Homo sapiens: one gene and its partners. The protein of the gene in region 1 purifies or fractionates together with the protein of each later gene. This does not show direct contact. Each region holds a gene or a part of one and is shown on either strand. Other genes may lie near its edges.

The links. Proteins that work in one complex are often made in the same cells at the same time.
Region 2: the proteins of DAB2 (region 1) and REPS1 purify together in Homo sapiens (affinity purification with mass spectrometry; one large-scale study listed by BioGRID and IntAct). This does not show direct contact.
Region 3: the proteins of DAB2 (region 1) and CPSF6 purify together in Homo sapiens (affinity purification with mass spectrometry, with the first as the bait; one study listed by BioGRID). This does not show direct contact.
Region 4: the proteins of DAB2 (region 1) and PIP purify together in Homo sapiens (co-immunoprecipitation; one large-scale study listed by IntAct). This does not show direct contact.

Annotation. Positions count from the first base shown.
Region 1 is NC_000005.10:39,379,112-39,384,518, reverse strand, and holds part of DAB2 (disabled homolog 2), read left to right. Parts: intron 1-1,247; coding exon 1,248-1,901; intron 1,902-2,902; coding exon 2,903-3,065; intron 3,066-5,407. UniProt on the Homo sapiens protein: Adapter protein that functions as a clathrin-associated sorting protein (CLASP) required for clathrin-mediated endocytosis of selected cargo proteins.
Region 2 is NC_000006.12:138,902,993-138,905,635, reverse strand, and holds the end of REPS1 (ralBP1-associated Eps domain-containing protein 1), read left to right. Parts: intron 1-503; coding exon 504-572; coding exon of another isoform or gene 573-609; 3' UTR 610-2,143; downstream 2,144-2,643. UniProt on the Homo sapiens protein: May coordinate the cellular actions of activated EGF receptors and Ral-GTPases.
Region 3 is NC_000012.12:69,249,557-69,253,068, reverse strand, and holds part of CPSF6 (cleavage and polyadenylation specificity factor subunit 6), read right to left. Parts: intron 1,941-3,512; coding exon 1,731-1,940; intron 19-1,730; coding exon 1-18. UniProt on the Homo sapiens protein: Component of the cleavage factor Im (CFIm) complex that functions as an activator of the pre-mRNA 3'-end cleavage and polyadenylation processing required for the maturation of pre-mRNA into functional mRNAs.
Region 4 is NC_000007.14:143,137,646-143,140,239, reverse strand, and holds the end of PIP (prolactin-inducible protein precursor), read right to left. Parts: intron 1,166-2,594; coding exon 1,051-1,165; intron 723-1,050; coding exon 598-722; 3' UTR 501-597; downstream 1-500.

The DNA of each region.
Region 1 (5,407 bases):
TGTACAATAGTCCCCCTTTATCTGCAGTTTCACTTTCTGAAATTAAGTCTGTGGTCAACCTTGGTCTGAAAATAAGTGAGTACGGTACAATATAATATTTTGAGAGAAGAGAGACAGAGAGACCACATTCAAATAACTTTTATTACAGCATATTGTTATAATCATTCTATTTTATTACTTGTTAATCTCTTATTGTGCCTAATTGATAAATTAAACTTTATCATGTGTATGTATATGAGAAAAATACTGTATATAGGTTTTGGCACTATGTGCCATTTCAGACATCCACTGTGGGCCTTGGAACATATTCCCTGAGGATAAGGAGGGACTACTGTATATAAATTAAAGATCAGTTGTTGGTTGACTTTAACCACTAAATAGATGAGATTACTGTCACAACACAGGCAACTCTAAGCAATGTTATGAAAAGATGTACAAATAGGAGATCTTAATGTGTGATTGACTAAATTAGATCAGTATTGAGTGTCTCTTTCAGAGGACATAGACAAAAAGGGTAAGCCCAGAGGAGAGACTGGGATGATGAGGATGAGATCCTACTTGACTATCAGCTTCAGCAAGAGCCTTAAATATTAAGAGACATACCTGAAGGCCGTGATATAAAAGAAAAGCCTCTCTCCCACCTCTAGAGGAAAGAACTGGACCGATTTTAGGGAAATGCATTTGATCTTAAATTTCATCACAGCCAGAACTATAAAATATGAATGTATTAGTCGATGAATTTTCTCATTTAGAGAGATGATCCTACATGACTCTGGGGGTACAATAGAGAGGACTGTATGTGTATAGGTAGGAAGCTGAGCTAAGCTTCTGAAATCACTTACTTTCAAGCTCAACATACTTTGATAATCATTTATAGTGACTCACAATCAATTCCCTTTAAGACTTTCAAAGTCACAAATTGAAACAATGCTCATAATGAATTAAGCCAGTCTGTATGTGTGAACCAGGGTGAGCAGAGACATGAAGTAAGCAACAGTAAGATTTCACCTAATGAGGTTGAGACTTAAATAAAAGGGCATGATATTGGGGAGGAATAGAAAGGACCTAGTCTATAGCTAGGGAGTAATGGACTACGGGGGTTGATGGAAGGAGGTAATGATCAACCGATTTATCAAGACCAAATTCAAATGGAAATTCTGATAATCCTAGTCATCTTATGTAATTTTCTCATTTGAAGTCACAACATGGACTAACACTTTCTTTTTTTTTCTTTCCAAATGTGATAGGAAAGCAAAGATATCCTGTTAGTGGATCTAAACTCTGAAATCGACACCAATCAGAATTCTTTAAGAGAAAATCCATTCTTAACAAACGGCATCACCTCCTGTTCTCTTCCTCGACCAACGCCTCAGGCATCCTTCTTGCCTGAAAATGCCTTTTCTGCCAATCTCAACTTCTTTCCCACCCCTAATCCTGATCCTTTCCGTGACGATCCTTTCACACAGCCAGACCAATCGACACCTTCTTCGTTTGATTCTCTCAAATCTCCAGATCAGAAGAAAGAGAATTCGAGTAGCTCGTCTACTCCGCTGAGTAATGGGCCCCTGAATGGTGATGTTGACTACTTTGGTCAGCAATTTGACCAGATCTCTAACCGGACTGGCAAACAGGAAGCTCAGGCAGGCCCATGGCCCTTTTCAAGTTCGCAAACCCAGCCAGCAGTGAGAACTCAAAATGGGGTATCTGAAAGAGAACAGAACGGCTTCTCTGTCAAATCCTCCCCGAACCCTTTTGTGGGAAGCCCTCCCAAAGGACTGTCCATACAGAATGGCGTAAAGCAGGACTTGGAAAGCTCTGTCCAGTCCTCACCACATGACTCCATAGCCATTATCCCACCTCCACAAAGTACCAAACCAGGAAGAGGCAGAAGGACTGCTAAGGTGAATTGTCTTCTCCACATATCCATTAGCAGAGTGCATGTTCGGTACCAAAGGGTGGTGTGATGCAAGCTCTCTTTCCTGCTGCTCTCGTAGTTTCCTGTGTTGCTGTGAAATAGAAGGTGGGATAAGGCACTTTGGTTCTCCAGGAGTACTTTCCTCTAACTGCCACCGTTTTTAAGCTTCTCAGCAGTGTTTTTCACACCCTGCTTTCCGTGTGCATGTCTTGTCACTTATGATTAAACTAAACACAAGTTTTTCCATTTTTAATGCTGCTATGCTTCTATACCTCTGGTAAGTTTGATCATCGTGTTCTGGGTTGGGAGGGTGAGAGTTCTTGTGATTCCCTTTGTACTTCCCTGACACTAACACATGCCCTGCACACCCATCATGTTGCATCAGTGTCCATGGTGGTGGTATAAAATTCTCGAGCTTATCTCCTCTTTTAAATACTGAGTAAATACATAAGCTTTTTCTAAGCTTATGTATTTACTATTACCACTATGATCTCAGCTTTATTTAAGAGCAATTTAAAATGCAGTTCCCATAGGTGTCTTTTTTTACCTCTCCTAAGAATATACAGGCTTGCCTGGATTAAGACCCTATGATCTCTATGTAGACTGACTTAAAATCCAATGGAATGAACAAAAATATTTAGGATGCTTATTGGTAGTTGCCCCTTTTACACACTTGCTCCCCCAACTTCAAGCATTTAGCGATGAGACCAGACCAATGTGAGTGTGTAAAGGAATATAGTAGATTTCACTTTGCAAGTCCTAGGTAGTGTCAGACACTAAGACTCAGTAGTCCGTCCGTTGTAGGAATCTGTGTCTTTTTTTGGAGGACTCTTTTTCTGTAGTAGTAGTTGTTGTTGTTCATCTGTCAAGAAAAAAGTTTTCCTTTTTGTGGCTCTCAAATTGGGGTATAGGGTAGGAGACAAAATGAGGCTGTATTTCACTGTTAGTGAGTAACTAAGGCTTCTCCCTCCCTCCCTGTCCTGTCAGTCTTCAGCCAATGACTTGCTTGCATCAGACATCTTTGCTCCTCCCGTCTCAGAACCTTCAGGCCAGGCGTCACCCACAGGACAACCTACAGCCCTGCAGCCCAACCCTCTGGATCTCTTCAAAACAAGTGCTCCTGCCCCAGTGGGGCCCCTGGTGGGTCTAGGTAGGTGCCTAGAGATAAAATTAAGTATGACTCTTTTGCTTTTGCTCATAAAATGATGATGCATCGGAAGAGATTTCATACTCCCAGAGGGTTTTACAGCATAAGATTTGAGCATCCCAGGGAGCCCTTCTCCCACTTCTACTATACAACCCCACATCCATTTGATATTCTTGACTTGTAACTCACATTTGGCTCCTCGAGGCAGCATGAGACAAGAAATTCATTTTCAGTATTGTACTTACTTGAACCAACTGGTCATGGTTTCCTGAAAGACAATTGTAAGGGATTCTAAACTCAGACCAGCTTCAGTAGCAAAACAGGGTTGACATAAGAGAGGCTTGTCTGTCAACATGCATGTCTTCCATGTCTTTTGCCATAATAGATCGAAGGCCTATGTCCTTTCAACACATAGCCCTCTTAGAAGGAATATATGCCCAAGAAGGATGTAAGTTAAGTCTGAAGCAAGAATAAGTCATAGAGTGAAAGTCCTAGGTTCTGGGCCCAGCTGTGTTCCTAGGTGTATGGTAAGGGTAGATCAGGCACACATCCTGATCAGTCTCTGAGCACTTCTGCCATAGGAGCTCCTTGCCAATATTTTGGCTAGCTTGAGTGTTTTACTGAAGCTAGAACATAAGTCCTAGAAAGCCAAAGTTGAAAAAAGAGAGAAATAAGGGAAGAGATGGAATTTTATCAGACAGCTAGTATGCATTGACGCTCTTAATTCCTAAATGTGTCATTAGCTTGTGTGAGCCGCTGATCACTCTGTGGTAGGACAGTGGGAAAGTCCACTTGACTGAGGGCTGGCCTTGCTATTCTTAGTCCATAGCCTATAGTTCTTTTCAGACTCCATGGTACAGTTTTCAGAAACCCTGACAATAGTTTTTGCTGTCCTGCTATGGACTCTATTTTTCTTCTCTTGGCACCTCTACAAACTCCAAATGGACTCTGGCTTGGGAGGTGGAGGACTGTAGACGAGGAAGGACTCTCCTCTCCTTCGGTAAAATCTGACCAGGGATCCTGGCTTTCTCTGCCTCCTGCAGTCAGTCATCAGGATCCTTGTTTTGTTTTCCTCTCTGTCTCTGTTGTTTTCCTACAAAGGAAAATAGTTTGGTTCTTTTACAAGAAATCTGTTTAATCATATCTAGAATAGGGTGGCCAGAGGAGGACTGTTACTCAACTGCTGAGTGGCAGAAATCCGTGAGGGTATGAAAAGCCAGCTTGTCCCAGGTCTCTGCTCGCATTTACCCCATCAAGAGGCTCTCTCTAAAGACTTCATGTCTCTTGGGGGCTTCCCCCTTTCTGCGTTGCTCTTTTCCTTGCACCCCCAAGTGGAGCTGGTTGGTACCCTTCCCTCACAGAAGACCAGAGTGCTTGCAATGCAATGTCTGCAGCGAGATCACATCACAGAGCTTTTTATCTGATATCAATGCCCTTAAGAATTTTTGCAGCCAATATTTAACAAGTCAGCCTGAAAATACAGCTGGACCCTATAACTGTTTATTTATTCAGACGAAGTGAAGCTTTTTGGCTAGGTGCCCCTGTTGAGGGCTTGGGGTATACAACTGCAGAATACTGATGATTGTTCCAAGTTTGGACATGGGACTCAAACTGAGCTCTACAGTATAGTCCCTGTCCACTAGCAGGGATCCTCAGCCAAACCATGGAAGGTTGTAGGTCTGGCTTCCGCTAGACCCAGCTGGGGGACTGTCTCCCCTGGAGAACTGGGGGGGTGGGGAGAGGGTATTGTAGAAAGCTGAGCCCTCAGATTCAACTTGCTTGTATTTTAATCTAGCCTCAGAAGGTAATAAAATTAATGTTCTATACCCATGTCCCCTTTTTCCTTATTCCTTGCCCCTACTTTGTCAATGTGTTCAATGTGTTCAATGTGTTAAAACACAATGTGGGGATTTGGTGGGTAGGAATGAAGACTGGTATAAGTATATACTGGGAAAGCCTTGAATTCCTGGCAAATGTAATATTTTTCTCTCCTTTTTTTTTTTTTTTTTTTTTGAGACAGAGTCTCACTCTGTCACCCAGGCTGGAGTGCAGTGGTGCTGTCTCAGCTCACTGCAACCTCTGCCTCCCAAGTTTAAGTGCCTCAGCCTCTCTAGTAGCTGGGATTACAGGCATGCGCCACCACACCCAGCTAATTTTTGTATGTTAGTAGAGACAGGGTTTCGCCACGTTGGCCAGGTTGGTTCTGAACTCCTGGCCTCAAGTGGTCCTCCCACTTTGGCTTCCCAAAGTGCTGGGATTACAGGTGTAAGCCACTGCGCCCAGCCCTAATATTTTTCTCTTTTACAAATACCATTCTCACTAATATGATATTTTCCTAAATGAAG
Region 2 (2,643 bases), on another chromosome or scaffold:
CTAGGATCTTATTTTAATATTAAACATATAAAGAGACTACATTTCAGCCGGGCGCGGTGGCTCACGCCTGTAATCCCAGCACTTTGGGAGGCCGAGGCGGGTGGATCATGAGGTCAGGAGATCGAGACCATCCTGGCTAACAAGGTGAAACCCCGTCTCTACTAAAAATACAAAAAATTAGCCGGGCGCGGTGGCGGGCGCCTGTAGTCCCAGCTACTCGGGAGGCTGAGGCAGGAGAATGGCGTGAACCCGGGAAGCGGAGCTTGCAGTGAGCCGAGATTGCGCCATTGCAGTCCGCAGTCCGGCCTGGGCGACAGAGCGAGACTCCGTCTCAAAAAAAAGAAACTACATTTCTAAAGTGAAGTATACTTTTAAAATATGAATAAGCTCTCCCTTAGTTGTCTTGACAAATTTAAATTGTTTTCTTGAAGCAGAGCTGTTGTTAGATATTTCTTCATTTTTATATACTTTGAAACATAACTTGGCCTTTGCATCTTTTTCAGGATGTTCTTGAGGAGAGAATTTCCCTGGAAGTTCAACTGGAACAACTTCGACCATTCTCTCACCTATAAGCCAATTGCCGTTAACTGTGAACATACTTGTTTTTAAGTGGTTTTGGGTTCAAAGCCAATTTGGAGACCTAGACATTCAGCTCACTGCTTAACTCAACATTAAATTTTATGATTCTGTTTTGCCCTATATGTTCACCGTTGTATTTAAGTATCTTTTATTTTTTAATTTCGACAATAAAAAGGTCAGGATGGCGTTTTCTGGAGGGTAGATTGTGTTTGTTGGCACACCCACCTTTTCTGTTCCCTAGCATCTGGGATATGCAATGCTTCTATGGCTAATACCACACACCAATTTAATTTATAGAATGGGCTCCTCATTTACATCTCAGTCACAGACTCAGAAATAAATTGTCAGTTTGTCCTTTTATGTTTAATATTTTACATAAAGCATCTATTCTATAAAAATCTTTAGAAAGAGTTTCCCATTTAATTTTGATTTTAAAGAATTATATTGGATAAGGTGGTTTTCACCATAAGCTAATTTACTCTCTGCAGCCGTCTACATTCTTCACAAATCATGTGGTACATTGAAGCCTCTTTTACATGTCAACTTGTGACAAATACAAACATGTGAGATTTTATATTTTCCTTGTGGAAATGTGATCAACTTCATCAGCGACTTCGAACTATTTTATGAGATTCAATAATTCAGCAGTCATGTAAACTTATGAAATAGGTATGAGTAATGGCCTTTCTTAATTTTTTTAAGTATTGTTTTAAAACTTCTGAGGATATCAGTTATTCCCAGAATAAAGGGAAATTCCTTAGGATTTCTAGTTTACCTTTAGCCATCTTGTCACTCATTCTTTTGCTATACAGACAAGTTTTTCCTATTAATGAGTTTCTGGAGTATGCCTTATTCAGGACAATATGCTGTTTTAGATTTTGTTTAATATTAAATGATATATACATTTCGATCCATTGCTAACAGCAGATATTCCCTTTAAGATTTATTCTGTCTATAGGATCATAGATTTTAAACTGCATGGATATATCTTGGCAGAATCAGAAGTGTGGTTTTACACCAATAAAACAGCATAATATTTTAACTTTTGTTCATCTTTTTAACAAGATTTAAAGTTTTAAGAAATAGAAGATTTTGTATTTTCATTTCTGAAAGAAAAAATGTTTAAATACTATAGATTCACAGTCCTAAACTGCACCGATAGACTTTGTTACTGTAAACAAGAATTTGAAGAACAAGGGAAACTGACAACCTCAAGCTTCCAAGATTAATACAATTTTTACCTGACAATATCTAGGTAAAAATATACATCAGCTGAAGTTTCCAAGTGGCTTTCAGTATGGCTTTAGTTGTTAAATAATAAATTTAAAGCATTAAAGGCCCAGGAAACTACTCAACACCTGTTTTTCTGAGTGTCTTTGTTTTCAAAGAAACATTTTTACTCAGCTGTATTTCATTACAAGCAAGTTTTGCTGTTTCCATTTAGTTTTGTTTTTTAAAATATGCTTTTTAAAAATAGCCTTCTAATTTAACAATGTCAAAAATATTTGTTAAAGCTTCTTAGAATTTAGCCTTCCAATAAATAACACTTAAAAATTATAGAAAACTTTTTAGTACTTTGTAGTGGTATATCTTTAATGCTCTCTAGAGGAGTACATTCATACTAAGGATAAGTGTGACAAGTTTTTGAGTAAATTGCCATTTGTATTTCTTGTCCTTTTTTTTTTCTTTTTTTTTTGAGACAGAGGTTCGCTCTTGTCACCCAGGCTGAAGTGCAATGGAGCCATCTCAGCTTACTACAACCTCCGACTCCCGGGTACAAGTGATTCTTCTCCTGCCTCAGCGTCGCAAGTAGCAGGGACTACAGGCGTGTGCCACCATGCCTGGCTAATTTTGTATTTTTAGTAGAGACGGGGTTTCTCCATGTTGGTGAGGCTGGTCTCAAACTCCTGACCTCAGGTAATCTGCCACCTCAGCCTCCCAAAGTGCTGGGATTACAGGCGTGAGTCATCATGCCCAGCCCTCTTATCCATATTTTAAATCAATAATTGTTTCATGAAAATGTTAAAAATGGTAAATCACCAACAAATTAAAATATCTTTCTAG
Region 3 (3,512 bases), on another chromosome or scaffold:
GTCTTCATCTGTTGTCCACTGCAAGATATTTTCCCCCTCATTAACCATTAAAATAAAACCAAGATTTTTATTATCCCAGTCTAGTTTTTAAGGGGAAATTTGAGACATAAAAGAGAAAATAAATGCTGAGTGCAAATCTAAGTCTAGTTATGGCCAGTCAGACTCCAATTTTTAAACAGCACAAAAACCATCTGGGAACCTAACTTCATTCCCTGATAAGTATTTCAGAAACTAGAAGGTATATACCCTTGGGGTTACAATAAGATTTGACTCTCAAGAGTTTCTGGTCCCTTACAGCTTTAAACTGCTATGATTTTAAATTGTGAATAAAACCAATTTCACTTCCTCCCATTAAAGGAAAGTATTTTGAATTTCATCTTGTTTTTGAATTAAAATGCAGATAAGAAAAAACTAACATGTATTTAATATCTACCATATACTTTATGTATCAACTAACTCTTATAACAACCATATAAGCACTATTATTATACCCATTTTACACATGATACAATAGAAGTTAAAGAGCTTTAACTCTTTAACAAGGTCACAAAACTAATAATAGATGGTGGAGCTAAGATCCAAATACTTACTTAGCAACCATACTTTCATAACTACACTGCTACTGTCTCCAATTTTATAGAATACTCAGACTGGGTGGTGGGAGATCTGTTACATTTAGTTTTAAAAGAAATGTAAATAGGCTGGGCACCATAATCCTAGCACTTTGAGAGCTTGGTTAGGAGGATCACTTGAGGCCAGGAATTTGAGGCCAGCCTGAAGCAATATAGCAAGAAGTCAGCTCTACAAAAGTGTTTGTTTTGTTTTTAATTAGCCAGGCAGAGTGACACATGCCTGTGGTCCTAGCTACTTGGAGGCTGACACAGGAGAATCACTTCAGCCCAGGAGTTTGAGGCTTCAGTGAGCTATGATTACACCACTGCACTCCAGCCTGGGTGACAGAGTTTTGCAAATTCTGTCTCCCCCTGAAAAAAAGAAATGTAAATAAAACGTTTAAAAATACAGTGTTATTAAGGAAATGCAAGGGTGCCAAGTTTTATTGATTTTTGCATATACAAGTTTTTAACTTTCAAGTATACATATAACTAAGTAGAAATACAAACATTCTATAGGACTATTTTAATGATACTTAAGATGTAATATTAATAAAAAATAAATATACATATGTGCATTTAATGAAGCTCTAAATCAATAATCTTAGTCTCATGACAACCCAAATTAAAATATAATACGCACAGAAGTGCTTCTATAAATCAGATTTCAAATTTAAGGGCAGAAATAAAACTCAAATTTGTAACACAAATTAAATAATGGACACTATTTTTAAACCAGGAGTGATACTATGTCTCTTTCCTTTTACACTTGAATCCTGGTTTGAGACCCCATGTGAGCATTATTTTTAGTGAAACTGGGCTATCGGAAGCAAGGTAAAGTGGTAGCATAAAAAAGGTAACTGAAGACAAAACTAATTTAACTATATTTAACTAGTATCTCCACCAAGAAAAGTTGAATGACCACAAAACTCAAAACTAGAAGAATTCGAATTAACGATGTTGCAAAGATATTTGTATTTCCCTCCTCATTGGACAAGCAAACACATATAGAAAAACACAGTAACTTCAAACTTATAAAAATCTGGAGAAAAACATTAATTACTAGAGCAGTTCAAAATCAATTACCAATAATTTAATTCTTATATTAACTTCACTTACCCATGTTAGATTTCCAATATATAATGCAATTCTCTTTCCAGTATATGTATAGACAACATTTGGTGCTGCTCCTTTACCCACATCATCACCAACAGTTGGTGGGAGAGTATCCATGTAATCTCGGTCTTCTGGGGCATCTCCATTATTTGCAGATGGAGATATGACATCGTCATACAAATCTATCTGATCATGCCCACCATATTCAGCTTCCTGAGATACAGAAATAATGCTCTAGATTATACAAAAGTCAAAATACTACTAAAATAGACTTGAATACAAATTCAACTTTTTGTTTTAAAAATCTGATGGAAAAAGGCCAAGGATTTCAGTACAAATCTTTTTCCACTTTATGCAATAGATGTATTCTTGAACAGGTCTAAAAAGTGAATTTCTTGCCGGGAGTGGTGGCTCACACCTGTAATCCCAGCACTTGGGAGGCCGAGGCAGGTGGATCACTTGAGGTCAGGAGTTCGAGACCAGCCTAGCCAACATGATGAAGCCCTGTCTCTACTAAACATACAAAAATTAGCCAGGCATGGTGGCACACGCCTGTAATCCCAGTTACTCAGGAGGCTGAGGCAGGAGAATCGCTTGAACCTGGGAGGCGGAGGTTGTAGTGAGCCAAGATCGTGCCATTGCACTCCAGCCTGGGCGACAGAGCAAGACTTCATCTCAAAAAAAAACAAAAAAACAAAAAAAGGGGGTTTCCTTTATTTCTTTTCTTTTTTTTCTTTTTTTTTTTTTTTTTGTAGAGACCAGGTCTCGCTACATTGCCCACGCTAGTTTCGAACTCCTGAGTTCAAGCAATCCTCCTGCCTCGGCCTCCCAAATATAGGCTTGAGCCACTGCACCCAGCCTAAAGTTAATTTCTATATAACGAAACCTACTTTTCCACTGATATTTATTATAATATAAAAAATAAGTTCTTTTGGAAAAAGACATGGAAACAAAATAAGTAACATGAAACTTTCCTTGGAAATACTCTTAACTAGAAGTAATAACACACAAATGCAAATAGACAAGTTTTTTTTAAACTGACAGTAGAAAAATCACCCCAAAATCCAAAGCCATTATATCTTTAATATGACCACAGAAAAATAGTTATTATTTTCTATAGTATTCAGATCTTGTTTTCCAACCTTGAGGAAGCTACCAGTATTAAAAAAAAGCATAGTGAGCTGAGCCATAAAAGAAAGAAGAAATATGGGTATGTAAATAATTCAAAATGTCGTAATAAATGAACAAGGTAAAGAGAAATAAACGAAATACATGTAGAACAATCCAAATTAATTATCTTGCAAGTTGTATTATTCTCAGTGAACAAAGAGCTAATGCTTACCTGAATTCTTAGTTATCTAGTCAAGCAAATTAGCAAGAGAAAAGCAACAGACAACAAAAAGAGTATAGTAAAGCTTTGGCACTGTCACCAGCAGAATTAAAGCAATGCTACTGGGTGTCACTTACATGCCTAAATGATAATCAGGGAAAAGGAAAACTAAAATGAAACAGAAACAGGAGCAGGAAAAAAATAGAAGAGGGTTCAATTTGTAACTAAGTACATGAAAAATGAAATGTAGGTAAAAGCAGAACACTCAACACTATTTAATTGCCTTTGATAACCATTAAATAGACCATAAGCTTGACTAAGCCTGTAGCACAGGAAAATCTCCATTTTTATCTTCTACTCTCCCTTTCCACAACTAAGTACTTGTATTGGTGTGAACCATTTTATTCTTATGACATAGAACATCTGACATAAGGAAAAAGACAATTATAAGACAA
Region 4 (2,594 bases), on another chromosome or scaffold:
AGCCCCTCAGGGCTCCCTCTGCCCCTTTACTCCTCTATTATGCCTGAGCTCCTCAGGCAGAGCTGCACAGGACCCTGATATCCCTGAGTGTCACAATCCATTGAAAACAAGCAACAGAATAGCATAGAATGCTACTGCTCATTTAGGGGGCCATGGACTCCATCCCTGACTCTGCTGCATGCAACAGGACTCCTGTCTTCTGGGATCTGAGCTGTTGCTGGAGGGCAGTGGGATGGAGAGAGGTCAAGCAACAGGGAGGCTTGGTGCCTGCCCTGGCTCTGCCACTCCTGTGCCGTGAACTTTAGGGCCACTGCTTTTCCTCTCTGTGAGCATAGCTCCTCTTCCCAGTTTCTTCTTCTCTCCCTCTTCATACCAATGGGCAGTGAGAACCCGTACAATCTCCTCAGTAAAGGTTCTTTGAAAGACAAATGTTCTAGAAATTTCAGGTAATCTGGGGTTCTTCAGGAGCAGATTTTGGAGATACAACAGAACATGGAGAAGCATGTTAAGAAGTTTATTTTATAGACCACAGCAGAAATTCCAGCCAAGTTTCTTTAGAGGAAATCACCTGGGTGTGGCAAACAGACAGGGCTTCCATTATTCTACCTTTAGGATTTCAATAGTATAAAACCGGTTGTTTTTGATGGGGATTACAGCAGCATCATCAGGGCAGATGCCTAATTCCCGAATAACATCAACGACGGCTGCAATTTGCACAGTTCCTGAAAAAGACAGGGACGGAGATCATCTCTCAGACACCCCGGCCATGTCCTGTCTTTTCTACTCATATCAGGCATCTGCCCCCTGGGGTTCAGTTTCCCCAAATCCTTTGCAAATTTGTCTCCTGTATCAACTTTTTGCACTCAATGCCTCTGTCTTAGAACCTGGGTGCTTTCCCCATCTGCTCTCCCCATGCTCTTCCCTCCCTCCCTTCTGTCCTTCTGCCCTGAGGTCCTGGTCCTGCTCGGTTCGCAGCCATGTTTCTGTTTATAGTTTCTCCTCCCTGGTGGCTGGTGGGTAGTTCCCTCCTTGGACAACTTCTGTACTTACTGTTGGTGTAAAAGTCCCAGTAGAAGGTTTTTGGATTGTCGTCACATAGGCAGGCAGTATACTTATAGTTAAATGCACCTTGTAGAGGGATGCTGCTAATGAGGTAAGTTTTAACCTGGTGAGGAGAAGGTGGGAGGGGGAATTCATTGTTATTTTGGGGAATGGGTAAGGGAGGGAAAAATAGGAGAGGGAAAAGCCGGAGGAGAAGAGTGGGGGTGGAGGTGGGCCTAGGGCAAGGGGGAGTCTACTGTTGTAGTATCATTTCAGGAGCCAAAGTCTAGGTCAGAAGGTTTTCCCTTCCAATGCCCTCAAACTCCTGCCTTAGCAGTGTGGAGAAGCTCAGGAGGAGATAGGGATGCAAGTGAATCCACAGGGCAAGGAGAGCTCATCCAGGGCAGCTGTCCAGCTGAGGAGCAGGCTTGCCTTAGTCACCAGCCAGAGGTTTCAGGAATCGACCTGCAATCACGTTTACTCTGAGACCTGGTGAGACAGCAGCCTGGCCACTTGCGTGTAGGAGCCAATGTCAGGCCTTGTTGTCAGAGCTGTGACCAAGCCCCATCTGTGCTCCTCTCTGACTTGGTGACCTTTGGTGATGAGAGGCCTCTCACTCTCACTTTCCTCAGGTATGAGGTGGAAACAATTAACTACCAAACCTGGCTGTTAGATAAGCAAATAACATCTTGAATGTAAATTTCTTTTTAACTTGAGTGCTTTGCAATTCAAGATCCCAGATTATTGTATATATAAATTTCAGTGGAGTCAGAGGATTTTGTCCAGTTAACGTTTAACACAGCAGTTTTATCCTGGGGTCCATAGACCCAGAGGGATCTGTGGATAGCATTCAGTGAGTCTGTGGACTCAGGCAGGGGAAAAATATGCATCTTTATTACTAACCTCTAATTGAAATTCAGCATTCCTTCTGTTATGAATGTCATCAAGGAACCACAGTGCCATTAGCAGTATGTGTGATTTTATCACAAGGAGAAAAGTAGATATGTACATATCATTGCACGGATCCAGAGGTCCGAAATACAGCCTGAATGTACTACCTTGAATGTATGGCAGTTATCAGACTGGCTCATGGTCACGACTGAGGCCCAGTGCCATTCTGCCCACCTCCTGCAGCTTGCTCAGCTACCTGGCAACTCAGCATCAAGTAGCCGTTCAGACCTAAACAGTAAATTCAGGTGTTCTCACCCTTGGAGTTTTACTCAGAATGCCTTGGAGAATCCTGGCGTTTCTTTGGAGAAGACTACCTGTGCCTTGTTTCCCTTTTTTTTTTTTTTCTAAGAGACAGAGTCTCACTCTGTTGCCCAGGCTGGAGTGCAATGGTGCGAACGTGGCTCACTGCAACCTCCGCCTCCCAGGTTCAAGTGATTCTTCTGCCTCAGCCTCCTGAGTAGCTGGGATTACAGGTGCGTGCTACCAGCCCTGGCTAATTTTTGTATTTTTAGTAGAGACAGGGTTTCACCATGTTGGCCAAGCTGGTCTCGAACTCCTGACCTCAGGTGATCTGCCCACTTTGGCCTCCCAAAGTGCTGGGA